2 separate regions of the Homo sapiens genome follow, and region 1 is linked to region 2. The links come from fine-mapping of genetic effects on gene expression. A gene starts in region 2. The other region holds a variant in brackets. All regions are shown on one strand. Distances are between the middles of the regions.

Region 1 (5,375 bases), 28 kb after region 2:
GCTAAGTGCTTTACATACATTTATATCTATCCCATGATGCAGGGACATTATTCCCATTTTATATATGAGGAAACTGAGACTCAATACCCAGGTATATAATTTGGAAGTAGTGGATCAAGGTTTGGAAAAAGTTTTTACTCAAGAATCTGTTCTTAAACACTGTGCTGTACTAGGAAATCACTGAGGCCATTGCAGAGCTGGTAATGTTGAAGGGGAACAATAATAGTTAAAAAAAATTTTAAACCTCATTATCTAAACAGATCTTTTGCCACTGGGTGGAGTATCTACATTGGTGAGGCAAAATGCTGACTGTATTAAGGAGTGAATGGAGTAATGGTATAAAAAAATGACATATAGAATATTTTAAGATAGTTCTGGGTGAGCAGTCCAGAACTGCCTTTTATGTTGGTATGTGATAAACAAGGTCTGTGTGTTGGGTAGAGAGGGACAAAAGGACTTAATATCCATTAAACTGTGCTAGCTAATCCAGTCTGCAATTGCATTTAAGTGCTTTTAAATTAATGAATATTAATATCTCTGCATGCTTTCGTGTATTTGTTTTTGTTTATATTTTCTAATAAGGATTCTTTTAAATACAGAAGCAGAAGGTTTGGTGGCAACCTGGCCCTCAGATTCAGCTTTGGTTAGGTTTGGCCTGGCTCTCAGATTCAGCTACTGTGTATTAAAGGTTTACTGATGGATGGATACTCATAGAGGTTTTCATGTACATTATTTACCTTTATCTTCACCAAAGACTTGTAAGGTCGAGATTATTGTCTCTAGATACAGATGTGAAAACTTAGATTTGTAAGTAACCTGCCTGAAGTCACAGAGTTGGGATTAAAACCCAGATTTTAAGACTTGGAGGAACCTTTCTCAACTGGAGTTCCTTGAGAGAATTCATCTCTAGTGCCCTGAGGGCACCCACTCTACATATGAATTTCTCTCCTTTCCATAGAATGGTAAGAGATACATATCATCCTTGGAAGAATTAATAAAATAGCCACAGAAAGGCAGATAACTAATAGTGGAGGGATAGGGATGCAAATGTGACAGAAAGGCCTGGCAGAGTGGTTTGGCACGTTACTCCCTCATTTTTTAAATAAAGCAATAACATAACAGTGTGAATCTACCTTTCTCTTAATGTTGATAACCAAAGAAGAGGTATAAATACCGTAAGGAGAATATGGAATGTCTACATCAAAAAATGCATCTACAAAATGCTGATTATGACACACTACCAAGTTTATTTTCCAGCCCTTGGTTTGTAAAGCACTGCTATCTGGTATATGCCTAAATATGGATTATTTCATCATAGGACAGGTGCCTCATTATCAGCTTTACTAGGTATTGTAAAATTTTCCCCTGAAGGGTTTATACCAATTTACAGCCCTACCAAACACCTATAACACTTCCTGCTTCCTCATTTCTCACCTATACCTGGTATTATCAGACTTCAAATGTTTAAAGATTAATCAGATGGGTGTGAAGTAGTATCTAGTTGTACTAATTTTGCCTTTCTTTGACCATCTTGAAGGTGGGGCATCTTCTCATGTTTAACATTAGGAATTTCCCATTTGTGCATTTCATGTTCTGTCCATTTTTTCTGTTAAGTTATCTTTCTTATTGAGAGGTGTGTGTTTGTTTCAAACTCTTCTGAATACTAATCTTGTGTGGTTTGTATGCGAAGTAGCTATCGTCTGTTAGTCTGAGGAGAACCAGAATCCAGGTCTTCTTACTCTGTTAAGTATCCTTTGCTGTCTGCCTCTCACTGCTAAACCAGATTAACTGGATGCTTAAAAGGGAAATTAATTCCTGGTAGGTGCAACAATAGCACATTTTGTTGGTTCATACACTAATTTTTCTTCAAAGTAGATGGAGAAGTTTCAAAATACATGTTAATACTATTAGGGAATTGGTACTTAGGAATTAAATACTGAGTTTTATATATATTGTGACCACTGTCTGCTCAGTC[A/C]TTATAATTTTATAAAATATATTTGAGAAACGGATGGGTTTTTGACGGTAAACAGTGAAAGCCATTTCCGACTGATTTGTGTATTCATGATACGGCATGATACGGCCTGTTTAGATCGCACACTTTCATAATGATGTTGTATCAAAGTTATTTACTCCTCTTCTGCCTCAGCTTCTAGATTTAGTATGTCCTGGATTTCTCCTTCCAAGTCAGAACATCCTCTCCGGATGGACACACCCTTGGATGTGTGCTTTTTTGCTTTTGGTTCTTGTTTGGATCCTTTCTTCCCAATTAAGAACAGGATGCCAAAGCTTTTCTTTGCTTAAAAAATATGAAAAGAAAAAGTATAGTAAGACAGAAGATGTTAATTATAGATGGTATTTCTCTTCATTAGCCACCTCTTGGCTGGTTTGCAGTGCTGTGGATTTTCTGGACAGCCATGCAAATGAGCTTGGTTACCTAGCAACAGAAGCTGGAACTAATGCTAGCTCTGATGCAACAGTGAGTAAGAACCTGCAGTTATAACAAAAGGAGTTTGACAGTGTATTGCATTTCCTCAACCTCTATATATTTTATAATCTTAGCTTTAATTTTTAATGCATGTGACCAGAAAATAAGCTATGGAAGTTTACTTATCTACCTCAGTAGTTTATACTGGAAAATCAGAATGGTAGAAGGGAGCTCAGAAGTGTCCAGAAAACAATCGAATGCATTGCTTATTCATGCTTCTTTTCCAAGAGCAGCAAATAAGTTACGAGCTTGAATGTAGTTAGATTTTGAGTGTAAGGGTGTTTGACTTTTCTTACCTATGTAGTAGTGACCATAGTAAGCCTTAAGAAAATAGAGATACACATAGGGCATTGTTGTAAAACTTTGTAGCAAACCCAAAGAAAATTGTTTAAATATTAGACTCTTTTTGTAATTTTCTAGTTGATGAATATTTACTTTTAATATGTATATTAAGGAAAGAATTGAAGGGATTATTTTGTTTGATCTGAGCAAGTACTGTCAGATGGTAGCTTATTAAAATTCTGACCTAATATATATATTACCGGATAAAATTGTTTCAACATGATCTGTGCTTTGAGCTGACCAGCGTGTCTTCCAGCGTTGTTTTATTTTTCCCTAAGGAATAGGTACTAATAAATTTGTTGTTTGGGGAAAAATCATTAAATGAATAAGTAGAAACCTGAAGGTTGTATTTGGATTTAATGCAGTTGATAAGTTAGTGAGAGAACTTTCTTAATTCATCTCTCTATTCTTTCCTTATACTGTGCATTTAGACATTTAGAGAGTTATGGGCAGGTTCCTGAGTTTGTAATAAACTCATCTTCAGATCTTTAGAAACCCATTCCTTTATGCATTTGAATGGCCCTTTGGGAAGTGGAATTTGGGAGAGAACAGCGTTGATCAGCCTCTGAGCTCTACTCCAGAAGAGACAGAAAGCAGTACCATCTCCGGTGTTGTAGTTGTCATAGACAGCATAAAGATAAAATAATTTACTTAAAAATACTGATGAACTGTTATAAAATTAGCTCTCAACAGGCAGAATCTGATAAATAGAAATTAAACATAATCTTATACAAGCAGTTGTGGTTCTTCAGTGCTAGTTAACAGTTTTTTCATTATATGCATGGATGCTCTTGCTTTAGCATCTAGGTACTTTGTATTATTTCTTTTTCTTTCTTTTTTTTTTTGAGATGGAGTCTTGCTCTGTCTCTCAGGCTGGAGTGCAATGGCGTGATCTCGGCTCACTGCAACCTCTGCCTCCCTGGGTTCAAGCGATTCTCCTTCCTCAGCCTCCCAAGTAGATGGGATCACAGGCACCCACCACCACGCCCAGCTAATTTTGTATTTTTAGTAGAGACGAGGTTTCACCATGTTGGCCAGGTTGGTCTTGAACTCCTGACTTCAGGTGATCCTCCCACCTCGGCCTCCCAAAGTGCTGGGATTACAGGAGTGAGCCATCATGCCCACCCCGTTATTTCTATTCTTTAGGTTAAATACTTGGCTAAGAAAAATGTCTGTGAAAAGGAAATGAATAAAAATTAAGACTGACAATATTCTTGGTTTTTTGTGTTTGTTTTGTCTTGAGTGATTCCAAACCTTAATGTATGTATTCAGTTTTAGGCTACTGTTTTCACATCTAGAGATAGGGTAGATAGCTGTTTATAGGGAGAAAAATGTGCTTAATTTTGGAGAAAAGCACTCCTGCATTGTGATTGTAAATAGTGGGTTGTTTGCAGTTGCTGTTGCTGGTTACTTACTACCTGTTCTTGTACATCATGTAAAATAATCCCATATTGGTTGGACTGTATATTTAAGCAGTGGTTGACTAGGATTGCAATTTTAGTTAAATCTAAATGGCCTTGTCTAGTTAAGTTTATATATTTTTAAAAAGAAATGCAAAACATTTATTAGGGAGCAATGCCTATGAAAGATAAAGGGTGCTGAAGTGGAATTAGGCTGGGAAAGCTTTCACACTGTGATGTACGTTTGCTCTTCTTTCACTCTTGATGTTTCATGTTCCTTCTGGTGTCATTTTCTTCTGTCTGAAGACTTTAGCAATACTTTTAGAGCAAGTCTGATGGCAGTAAATTCAGTTTCCCTCCGTCTGAGAATGTCTTTATTTCATCTTCATTCCTGAAGGATATTTTCACTGGATATAGAATTCTAGGATGACAGTTATTTTCTTTCAGTACTTGACAAATGTCATGCCACTTCTTTCTGGCCTCCATAGTTTCTGTTGAGAAATCTGTAGTCATTTGAATCATGGTTCCCCTGTAAGTAACATGTCACTTTTCTCTGGCTGCCTGCAAGATTTTTTGCTTTATCTTTAGTTTTAACAGTTTGAATGTGAGATGTTTGGGTCAGATTTCTTTGAATTTGTCCATGTTGGAGTTCACTGACCTTCTAGAATCTGAGATTTATGTCTTTTGCTAAACTTGGGAAATACTCTTCAACTATTTTTTTCTGTACCATACTGTTTCTCTTCTCCTAGTATTCCGATGACACACACGTTAGAGCTTTTGTAATTTTCCCACAGGTCCCTGAGGCTCTGTTTTTTTTTTTTTTTTAAACTGGTGTTCAGATTGGATGAATTCTATTGATTTTCACTGACTTTTTGCACTGCCACTTTGCTTCTGCTGTTGAAAAATTCATCCAATGAATTTTTTATTTTGGTTACTCTATCAGCTTTTTCCTTGCTAAGTCTCTCCCTTTGTTTCAAGATTGTTTGTATTTTTATAATAACTGCCCTAAAGTTTTGGATGGTTCCAGCATCTCTGTCATGTTGGCATTGGTGTCTGTTGATCATCTTTTTCCATGTGAGTTGAGATTTTCTTGGTTCTTTGTATGCCAAGTAATTTTGCAGTATCTTGAACATTTTGAATATGTATTA
Region 2 (5,375 bases):
TGGATTATCATGGCTCTTACCTTGTGCCAGGCATTTTGTTGAGTGCCTTAAATGGAATATTTCATACTATAACAACCCTTTGAAGGAGAAGAAAAAAAAAAGACTGAGAAAAGGGTGACTGAGCTTATCAAGGAGATCCTTGAAGAAAAGGGAGGAATAAACATAGATTTGTCTAGGCAGTTTGGCAGTGAAAGAAATGAGTGCTTGAGGAGGGTTAAATTAAGTTTCCTCCCCCAGGTAGGTCAAACCCATTTGGGCTGAAAGTAGAAAGGAAGAACCTACTGCAGAGAAAGAGGGGGAAGATCTGGACAGGGGTGAGAGGCAGCCCGCAGGCCCCAACGGCTGTCTTGGAAAGGGAGAAGGGACTCCTGGTCCTTTGGGTACATGAGAATGTTCACAAAATGGGTGGTACACAGCAATACTTGGAGAAGAGTGATAGAAGTTGCTGGAGCTAGATTTTTTTTTTTTTTTTAATCTCAGTGAAGAATCAGAGACATCTGCCAAGAGGGAAGAAAAATGGGGTGGGGAGAAGGGAGATCTGAAATAATACCAGTTGGGGCTGCCCTAATAATGACTACTACCACCTTTATCATGTGGTTATCATGAGCCTATTATGGGTATTTACATATATTCTCCTTTATCTAACAATTTAGTTAAGTATTAATTCCAATTATTTCTCAGTTATACGGAAGTTAAGGCTCAAAAACGTTATCACGTTAATTTAAGAAAAAGAATTGCCTACCACCTCACGCCAGGGGCTGTTCTAGGCAAAAAATTTAGACAAGCAGGGGGCCTGCCGTCATGGTTTTATGTAAGTGGTGCAGACAGAAAAATAAAACATCAGATCATTTCAGAGTTTAAGTGGTGTGGAAATAATAAAATGTGTTATGGTATTAACGGTGGGGAGGAAGTACATTAGTGTGGTCAGCCAGGGGAGGACCCTGTAAGGGGACAAGTGAGCTGAGAAGAACTTCAGGATGAAAAAGGTAGGAGGAAGAGTTTTCTGGGCCAAGGAAAGGGCAAGTGCAGAGGCCCTGAGGCACGAACTAGCTGGGCTCCTGAAGAAATGCAAAGGTAGTGCAGCCGATGCTGATCAAGGAGGTCTAGGCCAAGGCTGCAGACGCCATAGCAAGCGATGGGAAGGATTTACCCGAGGGGGTAAAGCCGATCCGATCCGATAGCATAAGGCTTCCTAGGGAGCAAGGGCCAGGCTGCCCGGCTCTCCAGCGCGTGTTCTTTCCACCCGGCTAAGCTGCCCGGCACATGGCTCTGGGGCGAGGCCACCGTCAGGAGAGGTTCCAGGCCAAGGGGCCAAAGGGCCACGGTCCGCGGGGGATGGGGACATGACCTCCTGGGTGTCGCAAGCCCGGGGCAGCGCTGACAGCCGGCGCGGGCCTTTCGCGAGCAGCAAGCGGCTCCCCTCACCCGGGCCCAATCACCCCCGCCTTTAATTCCCATTAGGGACCCCCCGCCGACGCAGAACCAGCCCCCGGGCGGCCTGGCTTGGTTTTTCATTCCCGGGAGATGGATCCGTCGCCCAAAAGTTCGGAATGACGGTACCCCTTTCCCTTAAGATCGATGAGGAGACGAAATAAATTGGGATCAGGGCGACGTCCTATGGAAAACAGCCTTTTGTATTTTTGTCTAGTTTTCCCCCAAGGCTTTCCATAAACTACTCGTTTCTCGGTACGCTCTCCAAGTCACCCCCTCCAACAGCGAGCCCGTTGGTTTGGCCCCTCAGCCCGGATTGGCTGAAGGCTTACGCCTCGGCCAGGGATTGGCTTCTTACCACTCCCCGCGCCCATTGGTTGGGGTTCCCCGCTTCTGGGCGGAGTGGTGAGGGCCGGTTTCCGCCTCCTTGTTTATGGAGCGCGTAGTTGTTGCGCTCTCCGAGCGCTGGGGCTGTCTCCAAAGTTCCCTATTTAGCTCCTCAGGCCAATTGGGGCCTCGCTCCACCCTCGCCCTCTCCCTCGCACGCCTTCCGTGTGGTACGGCCCACACCATTAGAGTGGCGGCGCGTGTGGGCGCCCGTCGCGTTCCTCCGCCCGTTCTCGCCGGGTCGCACCCCCCACCCCGAGGGTGTACTTGGTACGGCCCGCGCCGCCTCCTTTCCTCGCCCGGGTGGCCATCCCCCTCCCCCCAGTCGGCGGCGCTTGGTGCCGCCCGGGAGAACCAGGTCATCGGTCGGTTCCCGTGAAAACAAAAACAATCGGCCGCGCCGTCGCAGGCACCCGAACGTCGCGAGCGGGGCCTGGGGACGCGGAGCCGAGTGCAGCGAGCGAACGGGAGCAGCGGCGACTCGCCGGGGGGCTAGGGCGCCATGGGGCAGGCGGGCTCCGGCTGCGCGGGGCTCCCCCGGCGCCGCGGCTAGTGCGCCCGCCGCCTCGGCCGCCTCAGCCTCCCGCGCCGCCCGCTTGGGGAACGAGGAGCAGGACGCGGCCTCGGTGGGGCCCGGGCCGAACGGCTGCGGACACCTGGGCGCCGAGGAGCCGAGCGCCGCCGCCTCCGGCATGGATCAGTGCGTGACGGTGGAGCGCGAGCTGGAGAAGGTGCTGCACAAGTTCTCAGGCTACGGGCAGCTGTGCGAGCGCGGCCTGGAGGAGCTCATCGACTACACCGGCGGCCTCAAGCACGAGATCCTGCAGAGCCACGGTAGGGCGGCCCGCGTGGGCGCGCGGGGCATGGCCCACTGCCCGAGCCCCGGTCCCGGCCCCGCGGCGGGAATCCCTCACCCACCCTCGCGCCTCTGGCCCGGCCCTTGCCTCCCCTGAGGCGCGGAGGCCCCCAGACCCCTGAGACTTTTTCCCCTCTTCGTCCGATTTACCTCGAACCTGCCGCGACCTCGCTGCCAATTCAGAAGGAGCGCGAACCACCCGGAAACCCAGCCGGGAGCGGCGGGCTCCAGTCCGGATAAACGTGGGTGAGGGGGCCGCCCATCGCACCTGCAAACTGCCGACCCCCGAGTGGGCGCCCCTCGTCCCCCGCTCCCAGCCGGCCCCGGGAGTCTCACGTGGTGCCCGCGGCGCTGTTCTGTGGGCGGTGACTGAATCGCCTGGGACCCCAGGTTCTGAGTGATGAGGGCAGTGCAGGAAGCTCCGTTTCCCCTCTGTGCCGCCCCGAATCCTTGGCCAGGGGACTTCGTTTCTTCGTTTTATTTTGGAAAGTCGAGCGTTATTCTTAGCTGTGGGTTAACAACAGCCGCTCCTGCAACTTCATGATTTGGCTGCTGTGTGGACGCAGCTCTTAACTCCGCAGCGGCTCTGACATGGTTCCTTGGAAACCAGCTCAATTCAACCCTTCTGTTCTCCCAGTGTACCTTCTGATGACACCGAGGAGGAACGGGCGACATTTGCCCAAGTAAATTGTGCACATGTTGCTAGTTACTTGCTTTGCCTGGTTAAGTTCGTTCAAAAAAAATAAATTTTCCTATAGAAGGTGTTTCACCTAGATTGTTTTTTTTTTTACTGCCCCAAGCCCTGAGGACAGGTACTTTTAAAGGTTTGGTTTTCTTACACTTTAGAAGTCACAGCGATGATTCCTTTTGATCAAGAAGTGAAGGACTTATTTAATGGGTCTTTAATAAGAGGCTGAGGGGGCTTTTCAGCTTGTGGGCTGAACAGAAATTTATGTGAAGGACGGTTTGGTAGCTGGGGGAAGATGCAGATTATTTGTGGCAGGTGAGATGAGGGCAGTGGCGTTAGCTGAGTGTCTCTCTCCTTCTCCTTCATTTTTTCACACTTTCCCAGACTGCGTTTCAGTTGAGGATGGGTGCTGGTCCATGGGAAAGGAGTCTTACAGCAGCTTCTCATTCTGGACACTGCAGTCATTTTTGAACTCCAGGAAGGAAGCAAACCTGCAGTCATAGTGGATGAGATTTTAATATGGAAAAACCGTATTAATTCTCATAGGAGTTGCAATACTAGTATGGAAAAACGAGCAGACCTTGGTGGCTGCCTGTGAAGGGAAATTTGACTGACGTGGCGATGATGATATAGTTGGTAGATACAGGGAAGTGAAGGTGGAATGGGACAGGAATCCTGGGAAGACTTTGAATTTGGTTTTGGACATGTGAAGTAAGGTTGAAGGGCTTAATGAAGATAGAATCGAGGGCTTTCCTATTTACTGGTGGCTGGAGATGCATAGGTCTAAGATTGTTTTCTGATGTCATTTCTAGGAGGACAGTGGAGGGGATCACTTAGATTGCACAGAAGAAAGACTAGAGTCTAACCACAGTCTTGAATTTTCCTTGGCGAGTGGAGAGCCAAGGCTAGATAGAGCCAGCAGAAATCGAAAAGGGCGAGGACTTAGAAAAGGAGAGATTGGTCAGCTTTTATTTGGCTATTGGGAGTCAGTAACCCTCTGTGCTTGCAGTTTCATAGAATTGCTAAGACAAGCCAGATTACTGGGGGTTAAGAAGAAAAATTCGATGTGAACCGAGGTGTGGGAAATCCAGTACAGCGGTGGGAGGTATTCCCTCTGTGCTCCCGGCCCTGCCAAGGAACCAGTGGAGGAAGAGAATGAAGGGCCTAGACTTGGAGAGGTGGAAGGAACATTTCGTTTTTAGGGACCAGGTCATAGGCAGAGTTTGAGAGGAAAATGATGGAACAGAAAGTACCTTTCTTCCATGAGAGAGGATGTAAGTTGAAGGGGGATGTGATTGTGAGCTTTGTTTTAGAAAATTTAGGGCCAGGCTCAGATGGATAAAATGATGGTGAGAAATTGCTGAGGCAGGAATTTGTTTTTGACTCTCCACTGGGTACTAGGGAACTTTTCTCAGAATTTATGGTTTGAGGGGTATTGGCCACACAGTATGCTATGCTGTTAAAAACAGTCTGAGTTGGTGAGTTTGTGTGTTCCCTTTTCAGCCTCCTAATTTTTTCCCTCTTGTCTACCAAATTGCTAGTCTTATATTGGTATCTCTTTGATTTCCTTTAATTCTTCAATAATAGGATTAAGTGACTAAAGGTAGTTATAAAACATGAAAGAAAATAAATACCACAAGTGCCAGGTCTAGTTTCCCAAATAAAATCTTTCTTCTTTTGGTGTTTTTTTGTGTAAAGATAAACATCATGCTTTGGCATCTGGGCTATGGTATTTTTGAAAACAGATGATTTCTAAATTAAAGTTCTCGGCAGGTGATGTGGTAGATATTACATTGAAACTTAAATATGCCCTTCTCAAAGGTATTTTACTGAAAACTGAGTTTGGAACTCTATTTTCAAGTTTAAAGGGAAGATTTTTGGGCTTCTGAATATACCTGTCTGGGCAAATGATTCTGATAACCTGAGAGGCTCTAATTGGGACCCCTCTGTCAGGACTTTGGACCTCATTCTCTGAGATTACTTGTGGTAATACTTGCAAGAATCTGGTATGAA

The links.
Region 1: its variant is fine-mapped to the expression of RMND5A in whole blood (INTERVAL, PIP 0.93).

The regions. Positions count from the first base shown.
Region 1 is chr2:86,745,736-86,751,110 of GRCh38, forward strand. The region is part of intron 2 of RMND5A (required for meiotic nuclear division 5 homolog A); the gene reads left to right. Among named protein-coding and RNA genes, the nearest start is that of RNF103-CHMP3, 27 kb to the left of the region's middle. The variant A/C (reference allele first, on the strand shown) is at 1,976.
Region 2 is chr2:86,718,158-86,723,532 of GRCh38, forward strand. It overlaps RMND5A (required for meiotic nuclear division 5 homolog A), which reads left to right and starts at 2,134. Exons shown (of 9, transcript NM_022780.4): 1 at 2,134-2,652. The coding sequence starts at 2,511. RNF103-CHMP3 (RNF103-CHMP3 readthrough) reads right to left here and starts at 2,965. Exons shown (of 8, transcript NM_001198954.1): 1 at 2,825-2,965. RefSeq lists an enhancer at 1,327-1,860 and silencers at 1,981-2,170, 2,054-2,212, 2,691-2,750.